Regions from separate parts of the Homo sapiens genome. Here region 1 is linked to region 2. Evidence: fine-mapped expression QTL. A gene starts in region 2. The other region holds a variant in brackets. All regions are shown on one strand. Distances are from middle to middle.

Region 1 (11,872 bases), 380 kb after region 2:
GCAGTCTTATGGGACTGAGCCCTTAACCTGGGGGATCTGATAGTATCTCCAAGGAGATAGTGTCAGAATTGAGTTAAACTGTAGGATGCCAAGTTTGTTCTCATAAAGAAGTGGAGAATTGCTTGGTGTAGGGAAAAAAACTCACATATTTTGGTGACCAGAAGAAGGTAAATTGGTGTGAGTATTGAGGGTAGTAGTAGAGTTCAGCCTCCTTCCTTCACCTCTCTCGCACACGCCCTCTTGCCCTTCTGCCTTCTGCCTTCTGTCATGGGATAACACAGCAAGAAGGTCCTTGCCACGTATCTCAAAATAATAAGAGCTATCTATGACAAACCCACAGCCAATATCATACTGAATGGGCAAAAACTGGAAGCATTCCCTTTGAAAACTGGCACAAGACAGGGATGCCCTCTCTCACCACTCCTATTCAACATAGCGTTGGAAGTTCTTGCCAGGGCAATCAGGCAGGAGAAAGAAATAAAGGGCATTCAATTAGGAAAAGAGGAAGTCAAATTGTCCCTGTTTGCAGATGACATGATTGTATATCTAGAAAACCCCATTGTCTCAGCCCAAAATCTCCTTAAGCTGATAGGCAACTTCAGCAAAGTCTCGGGATACAAAATCAATGTGCAAAAATCACAAGCATTCTTACACACCAATAACAGACAAACAGAGAGCCAAATCATGAGTGAACTCCCATTCACAATTGCTTCAAAGAGAATAAAATACCTAGGAATCCAACTTACAAGGGATGTGAAGGACTTCTTCAAGGAGAACTACAAACCACTGCTCAATGAAACAAAAGAGGATACAAACAAATGGAAGAACATTCCATGCTCATGGGTAGGAAGAATCAATATCATGAAAATGGCCATACTGCCCAAGGTAATTTATAGATTCAATGCCATCCCCATCAAGCTACCAATGACTTTCTTCACAGAATTGGAAAAAACTACTTTAAAGTTCATATGGAACCAAAAAAGAGCCCACATTGCCAAGTCAATCCTAAGCCAAAAGAACAAAGCTGGAGACATCACGCTACCTGACTTCAAACTATACTACAAGGCTACAGTAACCAAAACAGCATGGTACTGGTACCAAAACAGAGATATAGACCAATGGAACAGAACAGAGCCCTCAGAAATAATGCCGCATATCTACAACTATCTGATCTTTGACAAACCTGACAAAAACAAGAAATGGGGAAATGATTCCCTGTTTAATAAATGGTGCTGGGAAAACTGGCTAGCCACACGCAGAAAGCTGAAACTGGATCCCTTCCTTACACCTTATACAAAAATTAATTCAAGATGGATTAAAGACTTAAATGTTAGACCTAAAACCATAAAAACCCTAGAAGAAAACCTAGGCAATATCATTCAGGACATAGGCATGGGCAAGGACTTCATGTCTAAAACACCAAAAGCAACGGCAACAAAAGCCAAAATTGACAAAGGGATCTCATTAAACTAAAGAGTTTCTGCACAGCAAAAGAAACTACCATCAGAGCGAACAGGCAACCTACAGAATGGGAGAAAATTTTTGCAATCTACTCATCTGACAAAGGGCTAATATCCAGAATCTACATGAACTCAAACAAATTTACAAGAAAAAAACAAACAACTCCATCAAAAAGTGGGCGAAGGATATGAACAGACACTTCTCAAAACAAGACATTTATGCAGCCAAAAGACACATGAAAAAATGCTCATCATCACTGGCCATCAGAGAAATGCAAATCAAAACCACAATGAGATACCATCTCACACCAGTTAGAATGGCGATCATTAAAAAGTCAGCAAACAACAGGTGCTGGAGAGGATGTGGAGAAATAGGAACACTTTTACACTGTTGGTTGGACTGTAAACTAGCTCAACCATTGTGGAAGTCAGTGTGGCGATTCCTCAGGGATCTAGAACTAGAAATACCATTTGACCCAGCCATCCCATTACTGGGTATATACTCAAAGGATTATAAAACATGCTTCTATAAAAACACATGCACACATATGTTTATTGCGGCACTATTCACAATAGCAAAGACTTGGAACCAAGCCAAATGTCCAACAATGCTAGACTGGATTAAGAAAATGTGGCACATATACACCATGGAATACTATGCAGCCATAAAAAAGGATGAGTTCGTGTCCTTTGTAGGGACATGGATGAAGCTGGAAACCATCATTCTCAGCAAACTATCGCAAGGACAAAAAACCAAACACCGCATGTTCTCACTCCTAGGTGGGAATTGAACAATGAGAACACATGGACACAGGAAGGGGAACGTCACACACCGGGGCCTGTTGTGGGGTGGGGGGAGTGGGGAGGGATAGCATTAGGAGTTATACCTAATGTTAAATGATGAGTTAATGGGTGCAGCACACCAACATGGCACATGTATACATTTCTCCGGGTGAAATTATCCTGGATTCAGGGTGGCCCTGAAATCCATCACTGATGTCATTATAAGAAGAGGAGGTGACAGAGAGAGACACAGCAAAGAAGGCTGCACGCAGACAGAGGCAGAAATTAGAGTCGTGCTGTCAGAAGCCACCGAGGCTGCAAAAGGCACAGATGGTCTCCCTGGAGCCTGCAGCAGAAGTGCGCCCTACTGGCACTGGGATTTTTGACTTCCAGCCTCCAGAACTGTGAGACACTAAATGTCTGTTGTTTGAAGCCACCTGGTTTGTGGTGCTTTCTGACAGCAGCCCTAGGGAAGCCAATACATTCCTTTGCATCTCTTCTCTACATTTGGTACTTGGTCCAGCGCTTACGGCAGAAATGCTGTTTCCTAGATATAGCTTCTCCCTCAGCTCATCCTCCCTTCTCTCATCCTCTTCCCTTCCACTTCTAAAAAGTTAGAAAAAAACATCCTCCCTCACACACTCTGAAGGGACACAAATTCTTTATTTTTAAAAAAATTTTTTTTTTTTTTTGAGACTGAATTTTGCTCTTGTTGCCCGGGCTGGAGTACAATGGCATGATCTTGGCTCACTGCAACCTCCACCTCCCAGATTCAAGCGATTCTCCTGCTTCAGCCTACCAAGTAGCTGGGATTACAGGCACGTACTAACACACCCGGCTAATTTTTGTATTTTTAGTAGAGATGGGGTTTCACAAGGTTGGCCAGGCTGGTCTTGAACTCCTGACCTCAGGTGATCCACCCACCTCGGGCTCCCAAAGTGCTGGGATTACAGGCATGAGCCACCATGCCCAGCCCAGGACACAAATTTTTATAGCCATTCATTTATAGCCATTCATTCATTCATTCACTTATAGCCATGAATACAAGTTTAAGGTTGAAAATTTAGAAATAAATTATAAAATCCACCTTACGCTCACCATATGGAAATGCATGCTGTTCATGTAGTTTGTGTGAATTCTTGTCACCTAACATTGTATCTTAGTAGTTCCCCAGGCGATACATAGAAGCCATGTCGCATTTCATTTTACGAATGTATCATTACACATTCAATAACTCTCTCACTGTTGAACCTTTGGGTTGTTTTCAGTTATTTTAAAATTTTGTATTTATAATTTTTGGTTAAAATCCTTATATAGACGTCTGTCTACATGTTTGGTTATTTCTTTGGGGTAGTCTATGAAAAAGAATGAATGCTTCAAAGATAAAAACCTTCTCCCCTCTTTGGTATGTGAAGCTAGGTTTGGTTTAGGGGGCTTGGCACCTTTAAGAGTTTACTTTCACCAGACATACATCTACCTGCTTTACACAGTGACCCAGTGAGATCGGTGCTAAGATGATGCCCATTTTACAGAGGTGCAAACTGAGACATAGGGAGGCCAGTGTCACACAGTAAGCAGGAAAGCCTGTGCAATTCCAGCCACGCAGAGTCTGGAGTAGTTGGTCCCAAACAGGGCGTGTTTGCTCCTCAGGGACACTGCTAATATCTGGAAACATTTTTGATGGTCTCAGCTGGAGAGGGTACTGCTGTTGGTATGTAGAGGGCAGAGGCCAGGGATGCTGCCAAGCACCCTACGATGCAGAGGACAGCCCCCACAACCAGGGATCACCTGGTTGAACATGACAAGGTTGCTGGGGGTAAGAGACTCTGGTCTGGAACCCCATTTTTTACCAGCGTCCGCCAATACCTCTCTCATTTTTTTACATTAGTCCTATGGGATGCAGGGCAAAGGTAACAGCAGGAAACTCATCTAAGCAGGTCCCATTCCATCCCCTCTGACCTGCTCTTGGTGGTTGCGAGAGGATTTGCTTGTGAGAGGTTTATTGGAAGAGGATTTGAGAACTTACTTTCATTTGAAAGCTTACAGGATATTTATGACAGTCTTTCCTTACCTGCCTTCCCCCACAAAACCAACTTCTGCAGATACACAATCTAAGTAAGAAAAATCTGCTTACTTTGAAAACACAGCTTCAAGATAACCTCCCTAGATTTTTTTTTTTTTTTTTGAGACCGGGTCTCACTCTGTTGCCCAGGCTGGAGTGCAGTGGTGCGATCACTGCTCACTGCATTCTTGACTTCCTGGGTTCAAGTGATCCTTCCACCTCAGCACCCTCCCAAGTAGCTGGGACTACAGGTGTGCACCATCACGCCCAGCTATTTTTTGATTTTTTGTAGAGACGGGGTCTCACTATGTTGCCCATGCTGGTCTCAAACTCTTGGGCTCAAGCAATCCGCTTGCCTTAGCCTCCCAAAATGCTGGGATTACAGGCATGAGCCACTGCGCCTGGCCTAGTCGCCCTAATATTTATCACAAACTCCCTCACCCTCTTCCCCAAACAACTTCACATAAATCTACAATCTAGAAAACTCTGTAGGTTGGCTTTGCAGTTTCTAGACAACTCACCCAGCACCTTTTTTCTTGTGAGATGACACCCCTAAACCACTCCTCTACTGAATTTCTAGGGAAACGCCTGTGGCTGATGTAATCATCTGCTTTCTAAGGGCCAGGTCCCCTCTGCCTAAGCCCTCGGATCCCCAGCAGTGGAGGGACAAATGCAACTTGGCTAGTCACATCGCATGCTTTAGCATGTTTCAATTTAACCCTGAAATGGCTGTAAGGGAGGGAAACCTACCAGGATTAACACAGGAGAAGTTAATCCTCAGACTCTCCTCAAGCTCTGGCTGGCATTTGAACCCCGCTGCTTTCACAGCAGCTCTTTTCCCTGAGTCAGGTGCCTAAAGCCAACCCCTTGGGGGCTCTGTCCTTCAGGGACCAGAGCGGCAGCCCCCTCCTCCCCCGACTTCTGCCCGCCGTCTCACCTTCTCTCCACGGAGCTCTCCTTTGTGGCCTTGGGTCCCGAGGGAGAGGAAGATCCTGAACCTCTGTCCTTGCCTCTCCGAGGTCCCCTGGTCTGGCAGGGGGCTGTGAGTGTCTGGGCTGGAGAAAGACGGATAGGAAGAGTAGGGTGGCCTTTGAACAGGAATTGATTGCAAAACTGGTTTCGGTTAAGTGCTGCAGGAGAGAAAAAGCAAAGCTCTAGGGCTCTTCCAGGAAATCATGGGCTCCAGCTGTCACTTTCAGTTTCCTTTTTGCCAGTTTCTCTAATTGGATGAACAAGGAGGTGAAAGAGCAGAATCCAAGTCAGGAGGCCTGAGTCTCTCGTCTCTGTCCTGGCTGTGTTATAGGATGGACCTATATGGGGTATGAAAATAGCTCCTGTGGCTTAGAGCTATGGTGAGGAGCCCATGAGCAAGCGATGGGGCGCCTGTTGAATAGTGGATTCACAGTAGCTGTCATCACTGATTGTTCTGAAACTGCTTTCCTCCACAGCATCTTACGTGACGCTGATGTGGGTAACAACCCTATGAGGTGCACAGCATTAAAGGGCTAATAACTCTGAATGCAGAATCCTCTGAAAATGGAAACTTTATTTTATTATTATTATTATTATTGTTTTTTGAGATGAAGTCTCGCTCTGTTGCCCAGGCTGGAGTGCAATGGCACGATCTCGGCTCACTGCAACCTCCGCCTCCTACGTTCAAGCTATTCCCCTGTCTCAGCCTCCCTAGTAGCTGAGATTACAGGCACCTGCCACCACGCCCGGCTGATTTTTGTATTTTTAGTAGAGATGGGGTTTTGCCATGTTGGCCAGGCTGGTCTCAAACTGCTGACCTCAAATGATCCATCCATCTAGGCCTCCCAAAGTGCTGGGATTACAGGCGTGAGCCACCGCACCTGGCCTCAGAATGAAAACTTAAAAAAAAATGATAATTTATTCATTTAGTGGCAAAACCTGACCTGATCTGGCATGAATTCACCTGTGGTTTTTATGTCTCCTGCTTAATTTGAATATTTACAGTCACTGCAGAAATATTAATATGTTTGACTGAGGAGGGCTGCTGCGGGTGCGTGGGTTACATAGTACACGATACCTGCACCCCATTACCTTTCTAAAAATCCCCCAAATCAGGAACTCTGACATGCATCTGGCCTCAAGGATTGGAGATATAGGATTGTGATACTCTGTCTCCCACTTTAAGGAAGAGGAAACCCAGGCTTCTAGAAGTTGTGGGTTGTTTGTGATTACACAGCTAAGAACCAGTCCTAGGCTCTGTGTCTACAAGAATGAGCCCACAGTGAGGTTACGGGCTGAGATCTGTGTCTCTCTAGCATTTGTGTCAAATTGTGATCAGAAGCCATGTGGTTTGTTTGTATTTATATGCCCAGAAGTCCCCAGTCACCACCCCTAGCTGAGACCACATTGGAGGCTGTTGCTTTGCAGAAGGTGCGGCCCACCTAGCCAGTCCTGGCTTTGCTGTGATAGAGGCCACCTCCTGTCCCTGGGCCCTACGAGCAGGAATGAGGGGTTAAGGGCTGCTGAGTTGGGTCTTGTAGGGGCCTTTCCAACCGTGGCATCCCGGATTCCACAACCCACCCCTGCTCCTGGCCTCCCACACTTGGGGAACACGCTAAACACAGCCTGACCTTGAGGAGGACTTGGCT[G/A]CCTGGCTGGGGCCGCTGAGCCATCCCAGGCCTGCCTGTTGTTTTCCCTGGCAACGGACCCAGATGTTGTGGTCACTGCTCGGTCCTGGGAGTCTCAGGGGCCAGACCGGCCATTGGATGGGGGCAGTGTTTACCACCAGGGCTCTTGTGAAACAATCGCCCCAAGAGATGCCATGTGAGAAAAATGTTCTGTAGCCAAATGCAGGAAGTGCTGCTTATGTAAGGGGACAGAAAACATCCACCCTATAGCTCAGATGAACAAAAGTAGGGAGTCGCTTAATTTCCTAGAGTCCACTTCCCTTCCCTCAAGGGACCCAAGACCTGCTGAAAAGAAACAAACTTGCCTGAAGGCCCCTTAGTCTCTTGTGATTTAAAACACACTCTCGGACCGGGCGCGGTGGCTCACGCCTGTAATGCCAGCACTTTGGGAGGCTGAGGCAGGTGGATCGCTTGAGGTCAGGAGTTTGAGGCCAGCCTGACCAACATGGTGAAACCCTGTCTCTACTAAAAATACAAAAATTAGCTATGTGTGGTGGCGGGCACCTGTAATCCCAGCTACTCGGGAGGCTGAGGCAGGAGAATCGCTTGAACCTGGGAGGTGGAGGTTGCAGTGAGCCGAGATTGTGCCACTGCACTCCAGCCTGGGCGACAGAGCGAGACTCTGTCTCAAAAAAACAAACAAACAAACACACACACACACACACACACACACACATCTTTGGGTAAAGTCTCTCATTTGGGGGTGAATGTTCAGGCAATTTAAGTTCAAATTTTCTATCAGGGCTTTTTATGTTTTCTGAAAAGTTTGCCTCTCATTGAGGCTGCAGTGAGCTGAGATTGCACCACTGCACTCCAGTCTGGGTGACAGAGCAAGACCCTGTCTCAAAAAAAAAAAAAAAAAAAAAGAAAGAAATTTGCATGCCTCGGAGATGGCACCTGGGGGCAGGGGCTTGTGCTGGCCCTCTGGGGTTCCACTGGCCCACAAAGAGGGTCCTTTGTGACCCTTCCAGCAGGCATTGCTGGCTCCTGGACACCTGGGTTCTGGTTTGCCTTGGCACCTCTCTGAGGAGCTGCAGGTTTTCTGTGTTGCAGCCACAACCAACCCACTCTGGGCTCAGGCTGTCTGCCTCCCAGAGAGCTCATCACGCCTCGGCCCAGTGGCCCCTGGCACAGGCAGGGACCATCCGTCCTGGGATGGGGGAAAGGCCTTGAAGCACACTTTGACCCTGAAATTCTTGGATTCTAGAAATTTCTTTTCTTCTCTCTGGCTACAGCATTTAGGGAGAGTTTGAACCTAGGAGGCGGAGGTTGCCTAGAGTTTGAGCAAATGCTGCCCTGAGACTGCAATTTGCCAAATGTAGCAAAAGTTCTATCGTGGCCTCCATTGCTTTGCCTGGAAGCAGTTTCAGGATCCTGGGAGCCCAGGCCAGAGCGAAGCAGGGAAGCAGCCATTACAAGGGGAGAGTGGAGCACTGAACTTGAACCCAGGACCACCAAAAGGGCCAGGCCTCGCATGGCCACACCCTTGTTGCTTGGCGTACAGCAACTAACCCTCACCCACTTCCATCCCATCTCCTTCCCGGGGTTCTTGTGAGGAAGGTTTTTGTTCGTTTGTTTTTTGTTTTGTTTTGTTTTTTTGAGACAGTCTCGCTCTGTCGCCCAGGCTGGAGTGCAGTGGTGCGATCTCGGCTCACTGCAACCTCTGCCTCCTAGGTTCAAGCAATTCTCCTGTCTCAGTCTCCAAGTAGCTGGGATTACAGGCATGTGCTAATACGCCTGGCTAATTTTTGTATTTTCAGTAGAGATGGGGTTTTGCCATGTTGGCCAGGCTGGTCTTGAACTCCTGACCTCAGGTGATTCACCCGCCTTGGCCTCCCAAAGTTCTGGGATTATAGGTGTTAGCTATCATGCCCAGCGGAATGAGTTATCTTGACAATGGTAAAGGTTGATGCACGCACCAGGTGCTCTGGCCATCATTACCATTTTTGTATACACAGGACTCATCTTTTTTTTTTTTTTTTTTTTTTTGAGACAACGTTTCACTCTTGTTGCCCAGGCTGGAGTGCAATGGCACGATATCGGCTCAGTGCAACATCCGCCTCCCTGGTTCAAGCGATTCTCCTGCCTCAGCCTCCTGAGTAGCTGGGATTACAGGCGCCCACCACCACCCCCGGCTATTTTTTTTGTATATTTAGTAGAGACGGGGTTTCACCATGTTGACCAGGCTGGTCTTGAACTTCTGACCTCAGGTGATCCACCCGCCTCGGCCTCCGAAAGTGCTGGGATTACAGGCATGAGTCACCGCGCCCAGCCCCAAGGATTCATCTTTCATGAGAGATCTGAGAGAGCGAGAGAGGGGATGTCTCTTTCTTTCTACCCTGGATTAAAAATGAAGATGTCTGGCATCCTGGGTTGGAGGGATGGGAACTTCCATGTGCAGAATGTTACATGTGGAGCACGTGCTCGGAATATTTCACTCATCATCGCATTTTATCCATATGCTCCTTCTATGAAGCAGGGAGCACAAGCCCAATATATAGCTGCCAAGACTGATGTTCATGGGTCCAAGGACCTCATCCAAGATCACAGTGTCTGACATGACTAGGGTTAGGCGTAGAACCCAAATGTGTCTACCTCCAGTTCTTTGCACTAAAACACATCACAGAAGTCCACATCTCTGCTCTGTGGCTGAATGATCAGTGAGTTTGCAAACTGCTCTCCTTGTGGTAGCCTGGCCAGGGGTGGGGTGGAGGTGGGCAGGGGCTGGAACAGGAGGTACAGGTTGTGCAAGAGGCAAGGTTAGTTGGCATTTTGGTTAGCAGGTTGCAAGTGACACATCATCTTGGAGCAGTGTAAGCAAAAACAAGGAAGCCATTTATCCAGCTTGGTTGTTCTTATACTGCAAGTCACAATTTACAGTGTCATGAAATCAGCTTAGTGGGTCTCAAGAAATAATAAAGGGAAATGAGGTTGGACATGGTGGCTCATGCCTGTAATCCCAGCATTTTAGGAGGCTGAGGCTGGAGGATTGCCTGAGCCTAGGAGTCAGACCAGTTTGGGTAACATGGTGAAACCTTGTCTCCACAAAAAAATGCAAAAATTAGCCGGGTGTGGTGGTGCGCCTATGGTCCTAGAGACTGGTGTGTGTGTTGAGGGGATGGGGGATGGGGGGTGCTGAGGTGGGAGGATCACTTGAGCCCAGGAGGTTGAGCCTGCAGTGAGCTGTGATCGAGATTGTGCCACTGCACTCCAGCCTGGGAGACAGACCATCTCAAAAAAAAAAAAAAAGACAGACAGAAAGAAAGAAAATGAAATGAGATAAAGTAAAAAATATCAGAGTATATCATACATAATAAGGGTATAAGTAGTGTTTCATGGAAATTATGTCCATATAGTGATGATGCACACACTTACGTGTGTGTGTGTGTGTGTGTGTGTGTTATGGATTGCACTGTGAAATGGGTCACAGATAGAATGCTCGAGAGCTACTGACCTGTTCACAGAATCAAAGGAAAACCCAGAAGGTTTCAGGCAGCTCCAGGTTCAGGGACCAGGAGCCCCACTGTAGCTCTCTCGCTGTCTCTCTCTCTCTTTCTCTCTCTCTCTTCCAGCCTCATTCTGTCCCACTACAGGTGGGCTTTTTCCATAACAGAAAGAAGAGAATTTCAAGTCTATTACAATTCATGTCCTTCTAGTTCCTGGATTGGAGATGCAAGAGCATTTTCCCCACCAGATCCAGTAAGAAAATTCTTTGGAAAGGTCTCTCTAGGTTAACCTGTGTTCCATATCCCACTGGTCTCTGTGGCTGGGGTTATTTGGTTCTCTGATCCCTCAGTCCAGGTTACATTACCTCTCCGATAACAAAAGCAGTATTCTAGTATCCAGAAAGTCCTCACTGAGCCATGAGGTTGGAGGGAGGTAAAAAGGGTACCCAATAAAAGGGGTGCTCTTCTGTAGGAGTCAGCTGGCGAATGCCCTCTCTGGGGGAGGGGGTGTCAGGTATTAAAGGGCTGGCTACCTCTGATGTGGCCCAGAGACCCCCGATAGCGTTTTGTGAAGTGGCATGTTCCTGGCAGCTGGTCTTCCAAGGTGGGAGCCTCTGGGTGCCCTGAGTACCCTGGCTTAGCAGCCACTCTGCTCCAGCTAGAAGAATCCATGTTAGGATTTCCTATAACCTCTCTAGGCTTGGGCTTCCCATCACTCCACATGCATCACAGAGAATGGGCCCCTCTGGCAATTGCCCTCCACGACCATCGGGACTCCCTCTTTGCTGGGCTGAAGATGGTGTTATCTCCCCCAGAGGCTTTGTGTCTGTACATAGGGAACTGCTGGACATGCTCCAGGAAGCCTCACTGTGGCCAAGGATGAAAGTCCACAGGCCATCTGAATCTGTGGCTCCAGGAAGCCTTGCTGTGGCCAGGGATGAAAGTCCACCAGGCCACTGAGGAGCAGCAGACCTAGTTCTGCTCCCACTGTGGCTATGGACATGCTGTTTCCCCTGCAAGTGTGGGCAGCTGGGCTCTGGCTGGCTAGCCAGGGATCCCCTGTGACCTCATGATGCTCCAGAAGGGAGTGTCTTCCAGCAGGAGGAGCCTCAGCCTTCAGGAATGAGTGTGGGACAGGGCAGGCTCCCCTTGAAACACCAGGGCCCCTCCCTCTCTAAGCCTCCATTTTCACATCTGCAAAACAAGGGGATCTCCCTGGATAAGTCAAGGTCCTTTTCTTGGCTGTGATCCTATGACCCTTAGAATCTACCATTCTGTGATTCTTGCTGAGATGCTATGATTCAAAGAGTATTTTGCATCTCTGTCGCTTTGTATCCAAGTCTTATTTGCTCCCCAGCCCTGTGGATTGTTTTTTCAGACTGCCCCTTGCATCCCAAGAAGGCCAATCACAAAAAATATACATTGGTTTTGACACAGGATTTTTTCTTGGTCACTTTGCAA
Region 2 (11,872 bases):
CTTTGTCTCCCGGGTTCAAGCGATTTTCCTGCCTCAACCTCCCAAGTAGCTGGGATTACAGGCATACAGCACCACGCCTGGATAATTTTTTGTATTTAGTAGAGACAGGGTTTCACCATGGTCAGGCTGGTCTCGAACTCCTGACCTCTGGTAATCCACCCGCCTCAGCCTCCCAAAGTGCTGGGATTACAGGCGTGACCCACCATGCCCAGCGGTTTTGTCTTATTAACTAGGAAGGAATGCTATCTTCCACCCACATCTCGCTGGCTAGGATGGTGTTACGTGGCCACCCTTAGCTTTCAGGGAACCAGAGAATTTTTTTTTTTTTTTAATTGCTAAGCAGATTTCTGTCCTGAACAAAATTGGGGTTCTGCTAGGATGGAGTAAGAGGAGAATGGATATTGGGTTGGTAACTACCAGTGCCTGTCACATAAATGAAGAAACCAGGCCTCAGAGATGCTAAGGTCTTGTCCAAGGTAAGATATATGGCAAAGTCAGACTCAGACCCATGTCAGTTTGACATCAGAGTCTATGTTCTTGGCCACTGTGAGAGATGACTCCCTTATCATAATGCATTGCAATTGTCTTTGGATTTGTTCATCTCTTCCTCCCTAGATTGTGAGCTCTTTGGGACTAAGAATAATTTTTTTTTTGTCATCTTGGTATTCCAGACACTTGCCCATAATTTGTTGAATGAATAAGTGAATAAATGTTAGAACTGCAACAGTTTCTGCAGCTAAAAATTCTTTCTAGGAAAATATTTTTATTTATTTATTTTTTAGACAGAGTCTCACTCTGTCACCCAGTCTGGAGTACAGTGGCATGATCTCAGCTCACTGCAACCTCTGTCCTCCTGAGTTCAAGCTATTCTCCTGCCTCAGCCTCCTGAGTAACTGGGATTACAAGTGCACGGCACCACACCCAGCTAATTTTTGTATTTTTTAGTAGAGACGGGGTTTTGCCATGTTGGCCAGGCTGGTCTCGAACTCCTGAGCTCAGGTGATCTGCCTGCCTCGGCCTCCCAAAGTGCTGGGATTACAGGCATGAGCCAGTGACCGAAAATATTTAATGTCCTCTTCCTCTGTAATGTTTCCTAACTACCTGCTTCTAAACAAATGGCTGCAGATGTATATAAAAGAAATGATCGGCCGGGCACGGTGGCTCACGCCTGTAATCCCAGCATTTGGGGAGGCCGAGGCGGGCGGATCATGAGGTCAGGAGATCAAGACCATCCTGGCTAACATGGTGAAACCCTGTCTCTACTAAAAATACAAAAAATTAGCCGGGTGTGGTGGTAGACGCCTGTAGTCCCAGCTACTCGGGAGGCTGAGGCAGGAGAACGGCGTGAACCCGAGAGGCGGAGCTTGCAGTCAGCCAAGATTGCACCACTGCACTCCAGCCTGCGCAACGGAGCAAGACTCTGTCTCAAAAAAAAAAAAAAAAGAAAAAAAAAAGAAAAGAAATGATCTGGTCTTTGTGCTGCCATGGATGCATTTTGCCTCTTCTATGATTTGTAGGCGTTTAACTCTCCTCTTTCTCCTTAAATACATAATGCTTGTTTCCAGGGCAGGGTCCAATTTTTCTTTGTTCTGCCTGGTCATTCAGACATTTCTATACTGCATTGCTCTGTTTCTAAGGGACTTGAGCGTTACCTGAATAACAAAAATTTGAGTCACTGGCAGCCCCGATCTCAAATCTCATTTCTTGCTGGGTCAGGGGACAGCCCAGGAAGATCTAACATCATTAAGATTTCAGTAGTTTGGCAAGGCAAGCAGGGAAGGGAGAATTCTCTTTTTTTGGAGAGAGAGTCTCACTCTGTAGCCCAGGCTGGAATGCAGTGGCGCGATATCGGCTCACTGCAACCTCTGCCTTCCAGATTCAAGCAATTCTACTGGCTCAGCCTCTTGAGTAGCTGGGATTACAGGCAGCTGTCACCACACCTGGCTAAATTTTTTGTATTTTTAGTAGAAATGGGGTTTCACCATTTTGCCCAGTCTGGTCTTGAACTCCTGACCTCAAGTGATCTGCCCGCTTCGGCCTCCTAAAGTGCTGGGATTACAGGTGTGAGCCACCATGCCCAGTTGGGAAGGGAGAATTCTTATGCTACCAGTTCAATAAGTAAAAATTTCAGAAGACCAACTGCTGATGTCCCTAGGTTAAAGAAAAAAAAAAAAAAGACAAAACCCGCTGTTGTTTCATAGGCCACCAGGAAATATCCTGGTTATCCCTCAAAGCCATACTGCTTGGTTGAACAGGATCAGGTTGTGGGGTACTGCCAAGTGGAAACCGCTGACTTAGGTTGGGGCTAATTCAGCACAAGAACAAGCTTGTAGGCACTTGGACTTCCACCTTGGTGGTCCAAATAATAATACTAAGAGATGTGTCAGGGCTGGGCGTGGTGGCTCACGCCTGTAATCCCAGCACTTTGGGAGGCTGAGGCGGGAGGATCAGTTGAGGCCAAGAGTTTGAGACCAGCCTGACCAACATGGTGAAACCCTGTCTCTGCTAAAAATACACAAAGTTAGCTGGGCATGGTGGTGCGTGACTCTAATCCCAGCTACTTGGCAGGCTGAGGCAGGAGAATCGCTTGAATCTGGGAGGCGGGGGTTGCAGTGAGCTGAGATTGGGCCACTGCACTCCAGCCTGGGAGACAGTGAGATCCTGTCTCAAAAAAAAGAAGAAGAAGAAGAAGAAAGAAGAAGAAAGAAGAAAGAAGAAAGAAGAAAGAAGAAAGAAGAAAGAAGAAGAAGAAGAAGAAGTTGTTTAAGGCTTCTCTTTCCAAGGCCCCTGGTTAAGCTTACTGTATCACTAACCAAATTAGTTGATGAATAATTACCACCTATTAAGCAGTTACTATGTTAGGCACTGTGCTAAGTGTTTACTTTTGTCCCATTTAATCCTTAGAACAACACTGTGACTATTATTGTTATCCTACAAATGAGGAATGGAAGGCTTAGTGAAACAAAGTAATTTGCCCAGCATAGTGGTTGCACCAAGGGGTTACTGGGGTGCTTTGCTTGCCGCATGTGAATCTCTAGCAGCCCCACTCAAGTCACCTTACATAATTAAAAAAAACCCAATAATAATGATAATGATATTCTTTGATCTTGACAATGAATGTTTTTTCACTCTCATTTAAAATGTGAATAAAGGTCAGGCCTGGTGGTTCATGCCTGTAATCCCAGTACTTCGGGAGGCCAAAGGGGGGGAATCACTTGAGGTCAGGAGTTCGAGACCAGCCTGGCCAACATGGTGAAACCCTGTCTCTACTAAAAATACAAAAAATTAGCCGGGCGTGGTGGTGGGCGCCTGTAATCACAGCTCCTTGGGAAGTTGAGGCACAAGAATTGCTTGAACCCAGGAGGTGGAGGTTGCAGTGAGCCGAGATCACACCACTGCACTCCAGTCTGGGTGACAGAGCGAGACTCCATCTGAAAAAAAAAAAGTGAATAAAGTGATAATGGTACTACTAATAAGCTATTATTAGTTAGCTATAAGTGTTAGCTGTAACACTTATGGAGCGCTTATCCTAAATCATTCCGTTCAAAGTTCTAAACGTGATAACATTAAATTCTTACAATAATCTTTTCAGGAAGGTATTATTGTTATCCTAATTTGCAGATGAAGAAACTGAGACACAGAGGGGGTAAGTAGCTGTCACAAGGCATCATGACTTGCAGGTGGCAGAGCTAAAACTCTGCTATTTTTACTGATTTATAACACAGCCTAAGTAATACAAACAATATGCTCAATACAACAACTCACCTTCAAGGCAAGTCCTCCCGACTTCCCTTCCAACCAGTCTGCAATCCCCAAACACCTTTTATATGGAAGTTCTTAGTCACCACTGGTCCCAGATTACGTGGGCAGGAGGTGGGAAGCCTGCGTTCTCATCTGGGTTGGTCTGACTCTGAAGCAGGGATCTTTACTGTTGTACTGTTCCAGCCCCAGCCAGGTTAAACCCAGGTTCAAAGGCCAAATCACACACTGGTTGGAAATGACCTTGGAAATCATCTAACCCAGCGTTTCTCAACCTCCGCACTATTGACATTTGGGGTTGGATAACTCTCCTGGGGGGACCGTCCTGTGCATGATAGGATGTCAAGCAACATTCCTGGCTTCTACACACTAGATGCCAGCAGCACCTCCCCACTGTAACAATCAAAAATGCCTTCAGTCGGCCAGGCGCGGCAGCTAACTCCTGTAATCTCAGCACTTTGGGAGGCCGAGGCAGGCGGATCACCTGAAGTCAGGAGTTCGAGACCAGCCTGGCCAACATGGTGAAACCCCATCTCTACTAAAAATACAAAAATTAGTTGGTGGCGCACACCTGTAGTCCCAGCTACTGGGGAGGCTGAGGCAGGAGAATCGCTTGAACCCAGGAGGCAGAGGTTGCAGTCAGCCGAGATCGCGCCACTGCACTTAAGCCTGGGCGACAGAGCGAGACTCTGTCTCAAAAAAAAAAAAAAAAAAAAAAAAAAAAATGCCTTCAGTCACTGACAAATGTGGGAGTGGAGGTGGTGGAATGGCAAAATTTCTCCTTGGTTGAAAGCCACTGATCCAAACCATCTCATTTTACAAATGATGGAGCTGAGGTCCAAAGAGATGAAGTAACTTGTTTAAGCTAGTTAGCAAAGCCAAGATTAGAATCCAGGTTATTCACGCAATATCCTTTTATTTCTATAACGTACAGGGCACGATATGGAACTCAGAGGAAGTCACTGCAGTCCTTGTCCTCACAGTCTGGTAGGGGAGAGAATCTATTGCACAGATATCTCTATCTCCACGAAGTTGGTAAGTCATAAAGTGCTCCTCAGGCAGCAAGGTACGAAGAAAGAGAATATGTTCTCGTGTTCTGAATTCCGGATCTGCCACTTTTTTGCTGCAGGATTTAACTAAGGTTCAGTTTCATCATCAATGAAATGGAGATCATGGTATCTACTTATATCACCAGTTTGAAACGGGTCTGTGGATGCATTGTGCAAACTCTAAAGCTCTTACAAACATCGGGTATTATTACTAACTTCATTAGGAATGTGAGTTATATTAGAGTAAAAGCTCTCAGAACTGGGGTGAACCATAGAGGGGTGGCTTCATTCCTCGACCTTCCAATTTGAGACATTTTTTCTTCTGCGGGAGGGGAAGCAGGCAAATAGCCTGCCTCTCACAGAGTGCCCATTCCCTCTCCGGGAACCAAGGTGCTCAGGCGAGTAAACTCAGGACTTAACTCTGTACAACTAGTACCGCAAGCAGGAGCCACTCCCTGGCCTTCGGGTCTCTCAAGCCCCGCCTGCTCCAGGATACGGCCCCGCCCAGAAAGGAGACAGACCCCGCCCCCCCCGCGCTGCCCCGCACTCCAGCCGCGCTGTGCCTCCAGGACAATCCCAGGCCCGTGCCGGAGATTCCCGAGCTTCCCCGATCGCTTCCCGGCCTCCCTCGGGCAGCCAGCGAGGAGACTACGGAGATTGCCGAGGGGGCCTGGCCCCGCCCCCCCCGCGGGCCGCCACCGCCCCCCTCGCCGTAGCCTCCCGCGCGGGCTGGAGTTCTACATCCCGGTCCCTCCCTCCCTCCCTCTTTCTCTCTCCCCGCCTTCCCGGTGCTGCCACAGTGGCGGGTCGGAGGATCCCGGCCAGTCAGCTCGTTCCTGCCTCGCGCCCCTCCTCCCCCCAAAATAAACAGCCCTCCCCACGCCTCGGGAGCCCGGACCGCCCCCTTCCTCCCTCGGCCGGCGTGCTGTGAGGGAGAGTGTGAGCCAGCGCGGCCGGTGGGCGAGCTCCGGGAGTGCGAGAGGCGGGGCGGCGCGGCGGGCCGGGCCGGGTTTCGCGTGTGCGTGCGGGGGCGCGAGCGAGTGCTCATCACGACCCGCCAGTGGCCCCGCGCCGACAACCCGGCGGGCGGGCGGGCGGGGAGCAAGCGGTCAGGCAAGGAGCGGCGGCCGCGAGGCGCGGAGGGGCGCGGAGTCCGCTCGCGCGCACGCACGCACGCACGCGGGGGCGGGGGCAGGCGCGCGCCCGCCTGTCGCGACAGTCGGGGCCGAGGCCCAGGGGGAGGTGGCCTGTCGCGGGTCGCCCGGCTCCCGGAGGCGAGGGGGGCGCGGGCGGATGGCGGAGGGCGCCCAGCCGCATCAGCCGCCTCAGCTCGGGCCCGGCGCCGCCGCCCGGGGCATGAAGCGGGAGTCGGAGCTGGAGCTGCCGGTGCCCGGAGCGGGAGGAGACGGAGCCGATCCCGGCCTGAGCAAGCGGCCGCGCACTGAGGAGGCGGCGGCCGACGGTGGCGGCGGGATGCAGGTGACCGCGCGGGACGGGGCGCCCAGTTATTGCGGGGGTGGGCGTGAGGGTCGACACCGGGCTCCCCGGCTTGGAGAGAGGGAGGGCCTCCGGGAGTCCTGGGTTGGAGGTGGGATGGGGGGCCATTCGGGGCCTGGTTGGAAGGTGGGGCGAGCTCGGGCTAGGAACGAAGGTTGCAGGACTGAACCTGGTGTGCCCGAGAGGGTCCTGATTCCTGAGGGGCCAGGAGGCACGACGAGTGGATAGGTTTTGGGGGGAAATCGAACAAGGTTGAGATGGATTCCATTTTTTCAAATCCTTCCTTAGTGCCTTGGGGTGGAGTGGAAGCCGGGAAATCCTGGCTTCTCTGGACTGAGTCGAGGAAAAGGAGATCTGGTGGGAAACCTCCCGAGAAGAGGGAGTACCTTTTGGCAGCCCTGGGCACACGCTGGGATGGGGAAGAGAAGTGGCATTTCAATGAGAGGAGTGAAAAGAAAACTCCTCGAGAGAGCCCCGAGGGGATGTGGCTGAGATTGTGGGTTAAATCACACAGAGTGTGAGAAGTACAAGGAGTTTGGTAATGTTATGGGGACACGGTGGTGCTCAGTCTCATTTACTTTGTGGAGCATACTAATGAGTCTGAAGGGAGACACTAGACATGTCCCTCCTGTTCTTTGCCAATTGCATTCTACATCACCAGGACACAAAATAGCTCTTTAATGTCCCGGGCTATAAAAAAAATTTTTTTATAGGGCTATTAGAAGACTGGATTCTCAATTCTGGATTGAAAGATAAACGTGGTTAATTTGGGTAGGGAATGGGAAAGGTATTGATGTCAGCTGACTTCATAGTTTTGAAGAAGACCTTGAAACCTTTGGAGGTTTTACGATTTGGTCTTTGCCCAGAAAATACTGCTATGACATGATGAGTCTCACCTACCAACAGTTGTGCAGACTTGTGCCTAATTCTCTCGGAGTCATAGGATGTTAGAGGGATGCTAGGAGGACTAGACATCATCTTTTCCAGGGGTTCTTAACCTGGGAAGACTTGGAAGATTCTTACTCATAGTAGGTGATGTGCACTTTTTGGTGGAGGAGAGTCAATAGTTTTCATCTTTGTTTTTTTTGGAGGAGATTCAAGTCCCAGCTTGTTTTAACCACCTTATTTTATAGATGGGGAATCAGAAGTCCAGAGAAGATGGTGACTTGGGTAAGGCCACCCAGTTAGCTAATAGTAAAACTAGAACTAGAAGCCTGGTCTTCTAATTCCTATTCCTGTGCTGTCTCCATTACACCACTCTTGGAAATCTCTGCAGTGCTAAAAGACTTCCTGTGCTCTGCTCCCTGCTTTTCAAGCCTCTGCCTGACTTCCTGTGTTAGGGACAGAGCTGTACTTAAGCCTAGCATGTTTGTTGTATGCTTCTTGGTCTCCTTTGCAGAGTTTACCCTGTTACTTCTGTTGATTTAGGTAAAGTGACCCTCTTGGTGTTTATTTTTGAATTCTTTTGTTTTGTTTGCCTGCTTTTATTTTCCATTAGAACTCTGTCAGGCAGAGGGATTGTGAGAAGTAAAAGCTCAGGGCCATGGCAAAAAAGACAGGAATGTGGGAGACTTCAGGTGAGGTGAGCTAATATTGGATGATAAGGAGGGAAGACTGGATGTAGGTGCTGGTGAGCAGGTTCTACTTGGTGTGTGTGTGTGTGTGTGTGTGTGTGTGTGTATGTATTCATTTATCATTTCTGTCAATCCTAGTTAATAGTGAGACCCCCGTCCCTTTCCCTCATTTACTCCTGGGGCCTATTATCTGTTGGTTGCCTTCAAACTGGCTAAAGATAGTGATATTTGGAAATGGAGCAGTGTGTAGGGACTTCGCAGGGGTGTGCAGAGGAAAGAGTGGTTAGGTCCTTGGGGGTACAAATTGGCAGCTGAGAGTTATCCCTCCGAGAATCCTTTTTTCACTTCTTGTATTTTATTTTCTTTCTATACATTCTCTTTTTTTTTTTTTTGCCCAGGCTGGAGTGCAATGGCACGATCTCGGCTCACTGCAACCTCCACCTCCACCTCCACCTCTGGGTTCAAGGGATTCTCCTGCCTCAGCTTCCTGAGTAGATGGGATTACAGGCGTCTGCCACCATGCCCAGCTAATTTTTCTTATTTTTAGTAGAGAGGGGGTTTCACCAGGTTGGCCAGGCTGGTCTCGAACTCCTGACCTCAGGTGATTCACCCACCTCAGCCTCCCAAAATGTTGGGATTACAGGTGTGAGCCACCACACCCGGCCTTCTATACATTCCCATTGTTGTAGGTCCATTCCCCTATGTCATACAGGTATTCAAATCATTGATTTAGGCCCTGCCTTCAACTAGCTGAATGGTTCTGCAGAAATCTTTCATTTTGGGGCCTCTGTTTTCCTTAGTTGTAAAATAAAGTATGTGTACAAGATGATTTCCCTTGTAATCCACCCACCTCGGCCTCCCAAAGTGCTGGGATTACAGGTGTGAGGCACCGCACCCGGCCAAGTTCTAAGTTACCTTCTAAAAGTTATAAGTCCAGTTCACTGTCCTTAAGGTGCATGCAATCTATGTGGGGAGACAAATGGGCGAAAAGTTTTTTTTAAAGAAGCGTGCATTTTTAAAGAAGTGTGAGAGTATTACATGAATATACTTAATGTTTATTCATTGAACTAACATTTATTAAGCAGCTGCTACATCCCAGGCACTGTTTTAACCCTAAGAGATATAATAGTGAACAACAACAACAAAAAACCCTTGCTGTCATGGAACTAATATTGAATGGAAAGAGACATCTAATAAATCAACAACTATAATTGTGTGGTGATAAGGGCTAAAAAGAAAAAGCAGGGAAAGGGAGAGATGGAAAGGGAGAGAATGAAGATGGTTACGGAAGGGCTTTAAGATAGATGGCCTATGAGTGAAGTGAGGTAATGGGCCATTCAGATGCTTTCGGAAAGAGGGTTCAGGTAGAGGAGGTGAGGGTGCACAGGCATTGAGAAAGACTGCTTGGTTTGTTTGGAAACAGGAGACCAATGTATTAATAGCTGGAGCAGAGAGAGCAAGGGCAGGTAGTCTTAGGAGATGGTATCAGTGGTTTAGAAATATCTATAGGCCCTATGTAAATACACACTTTAAAAATCTTAGCCGGGCGCAGTGGCTCACGCCTGTAATCCCAGCACTTTGGGAGACTGAGGCGGGTGGATCGCCTGAGATCAGGAGTTCGAGACCAGCCTGGCCAACATAGTGAAACCCGTCTCTACTAAAAATACAAAAAATTAGCCAGGCGTGGTGGCAGGCGCCTGTAATCCCAGCTACTAGGGAGGCTGAGGCAGGAGAATCACTTGAACTCGGGAGGCGGAGGTTGCAGTTAGCTGAGGTTGCGCCATTGCACTCCAGGCTGGGCAACAAGAGCGAAAATCTGTCTCAAAAAAATAAAAAAAATCTTATCGTAGCCAGTGTTTTGGGTATGTGGGTTTGTCTTAAAGTACACGTCTTTTTTTTCTTTTTTTTTGAGATGGAGTCTCACTGTTGCCCAGGCTGGAGTGCAGTGGCTTGATCTCAGCTCACTGCAACCTCTGCCTCCTGGGTTCAAGCAATTCTTATGCCTCAGCCTCCTGAGTAGCTGGGATTACAGGCATGTGCCACCACACCCCGCTAATTTTTGTATTTATAGTAGAGATGAGGTTTCACCATGTTGGCCAGGCTGGTCTCGAACTCCTGACCTCAGGTGATCGCCTGCGTTGGCCTCCCAAAGTGCTGAGATTACAGGCATGAGCCACTGCACCTGGCCTGTTTTCTTAACACGTTTTCTAACTCCTTTTGTGAAGCCTTCCCTGACAGCTTAGTTCACACCATTCCGATCCTACTCTTGCCTCTTGGTATATTGATGCTTAATTGTGTGTCATCTTTTATTGTCCCTTAATTGTTTTATTATTCTTGTTTCACTGCTAAGATTGTAAGCTTCTAAAAGATAGGAACTATATTTCCTTTGTATTTATCCTTCGTAATACCTAACAGTTTTGGGTACTTGGTAAGTGCTCAATGCCTGTTAAATTGAAATTGAAATTTACCTTTTACAGATAGTTAAGGATTAAGAAAAATTGTGAAATTCCAGAGTGAGGGTATCATCACAGAATTTTCCAGGCACTTTGAATGTCAAAGGATTAACCGCTTTTTATAGAATAAGTTCATTTACTGGGGTCATTCCCAAGGCTGCTTACTAAATGGAGCTGTAGTGCTAAGCGTTAGATTCCAAAGTTGAATCTTGTTAAGTTGTACCACTAAGCTTTTGGAGTAAATCATCACTTACCAAAATGGAGTTTAGGAAACGCCAGAGAGTCTGTGATGCTTTTGTTATAATCCTTAGGCTCAGAAGGAACCCTAGGAGAAAGAGAGGAAGGGTCGGTGCTTTCAAAGGCAGTATACAGAAACTTGATGTAGGTGGAAGAGGAGTCAGTGCAGCCCTGGAAAGAGTACAGAAATAGAGAAACGTGAACCAGAGAGTAGGAGGGAAGTGACAAACTCAACTGGAAAGCTGATGTACAGTTTGAGAAATGTAGTTAAAGAGAGTACTTGGAAATACTGTACTCAAAGTTTGTGGGAAGTTAAATGAGTTAAATATAGGGCTATTAGAGGTTCATTTCACTTTAAGTTTAATATGTATGAAATTTACGCTCTATACAATGTAGTGGGGAATGAATTCTTTTGGTCAGCTTTTCTAGTGAACAATTTGATTCATAAAAATTTTATTTTTGTGCAGTTTTCTAAGAGTTTAGCTGCTGTATAAGGTAAGATGTACCTTATTACTTATAGCTTTCAGCAGAATTCTTTGTGTCAGTGAAATGTTGATATGGTATAATTATTATATGGCCAAGTAACCGCTTCTCACCATAGAGTCATAAATCCAGTTTAGCCAAGTGGGTTCAGCAGTTATTCCTATTAGCAGCTGATTCTAGTAGTAAGATGACTTTCTTTCAGGTTTCAGGGAAGGGGTTCCAGATAGCCTGAAGTTGCTTTGTAGATGCTGTGTTTATTGAAGTAGTTTATCTTCCCATTTGCTTATTTATGGGCTTATTTCCTCATAGGTGGATGTCTCTTTGTGCCCTCATTTGGTATTTGGTGCTGAAACTAAGCATGGTGCTACCATTCAAGAAGAGTTATAAAAATATTGTGTTTTTTTTTTCTTGCAAGTAATTTCATGAACAATATTTCACTGAAATTACTGAATTTTTCATCTCTCCCTGTCCCAGTGTCCTTGGGCTGCCACAGCAAAATACCATAGACTGGGTGGCTTAAACAACAGACATTTATTTCTCACAGTTTTGGAGGCTGGGAAGTCCAAGATGAAGGTGCCAGCAGATTTCATGTCTGGTGAGGGCCCACCTTCTGGCTTGTGGATAGCTGTCTTCTTGCTGTGTGTTCACATGGCCTTTCCTTTGTCTGTGCCCTGGGGGAGAGAGAGTCAGTGGTCTCTTCCTCTTCTTATAAGGGCACTCATTTATCATGTAGTTCCCACCCTCATGACCCAATCTGAAGCTAATTCTAGAGGTCCTACCTCCAAATACCATTACACTGGGGTTAGGGCTTCAACATACG

Alleles and levels. Positions count from the first base shown, and alleles are read on the strand shown. Sizes are in standard deviations (SD) of each study's normalised expression.
With allele G in place of A in region 1, the expression in subcutaneous fat of the gene that starts at base 5,703 in region 2 is higher (small effect, 0.13 SD a copy in GTEx).

The links.
Region 1: its variant is fine-mapped to the expression of RBFOX2 in subcutaneous fat (GTEx, PIP above 0.99). The same link has a PIP of 0.9 or more in tibial nerve.

What each region holds. Positions count from the first base shown.
Region 1 is chr22:35,641,994-35,653,865 of GRCh38, reverse strand. It overlaps APOL6 (apolipoprotein L6), which reads right to left and starts at 5,420. Exons shown (of 3, transcript NM_030641.4): 1 at 5,243-5,420. RefSeq lists an enhancer at 5,416-5,715. The variant G/A (reference allele first, on the strand shown) is at 6,927.
Region 2 is chr22:36,022,655-36,034,526 of GRCh38, reverse strand. RBFOX2 (RNA binding fox-1 homolog 2) reads left to right here and starts at 5,703. Exons shown (of 14, transcript NM_001349999.2): 1 at 5,703-6,287. The coding sequence starts at 6,102. RefSeq lists a silencer at 5,468-5,537.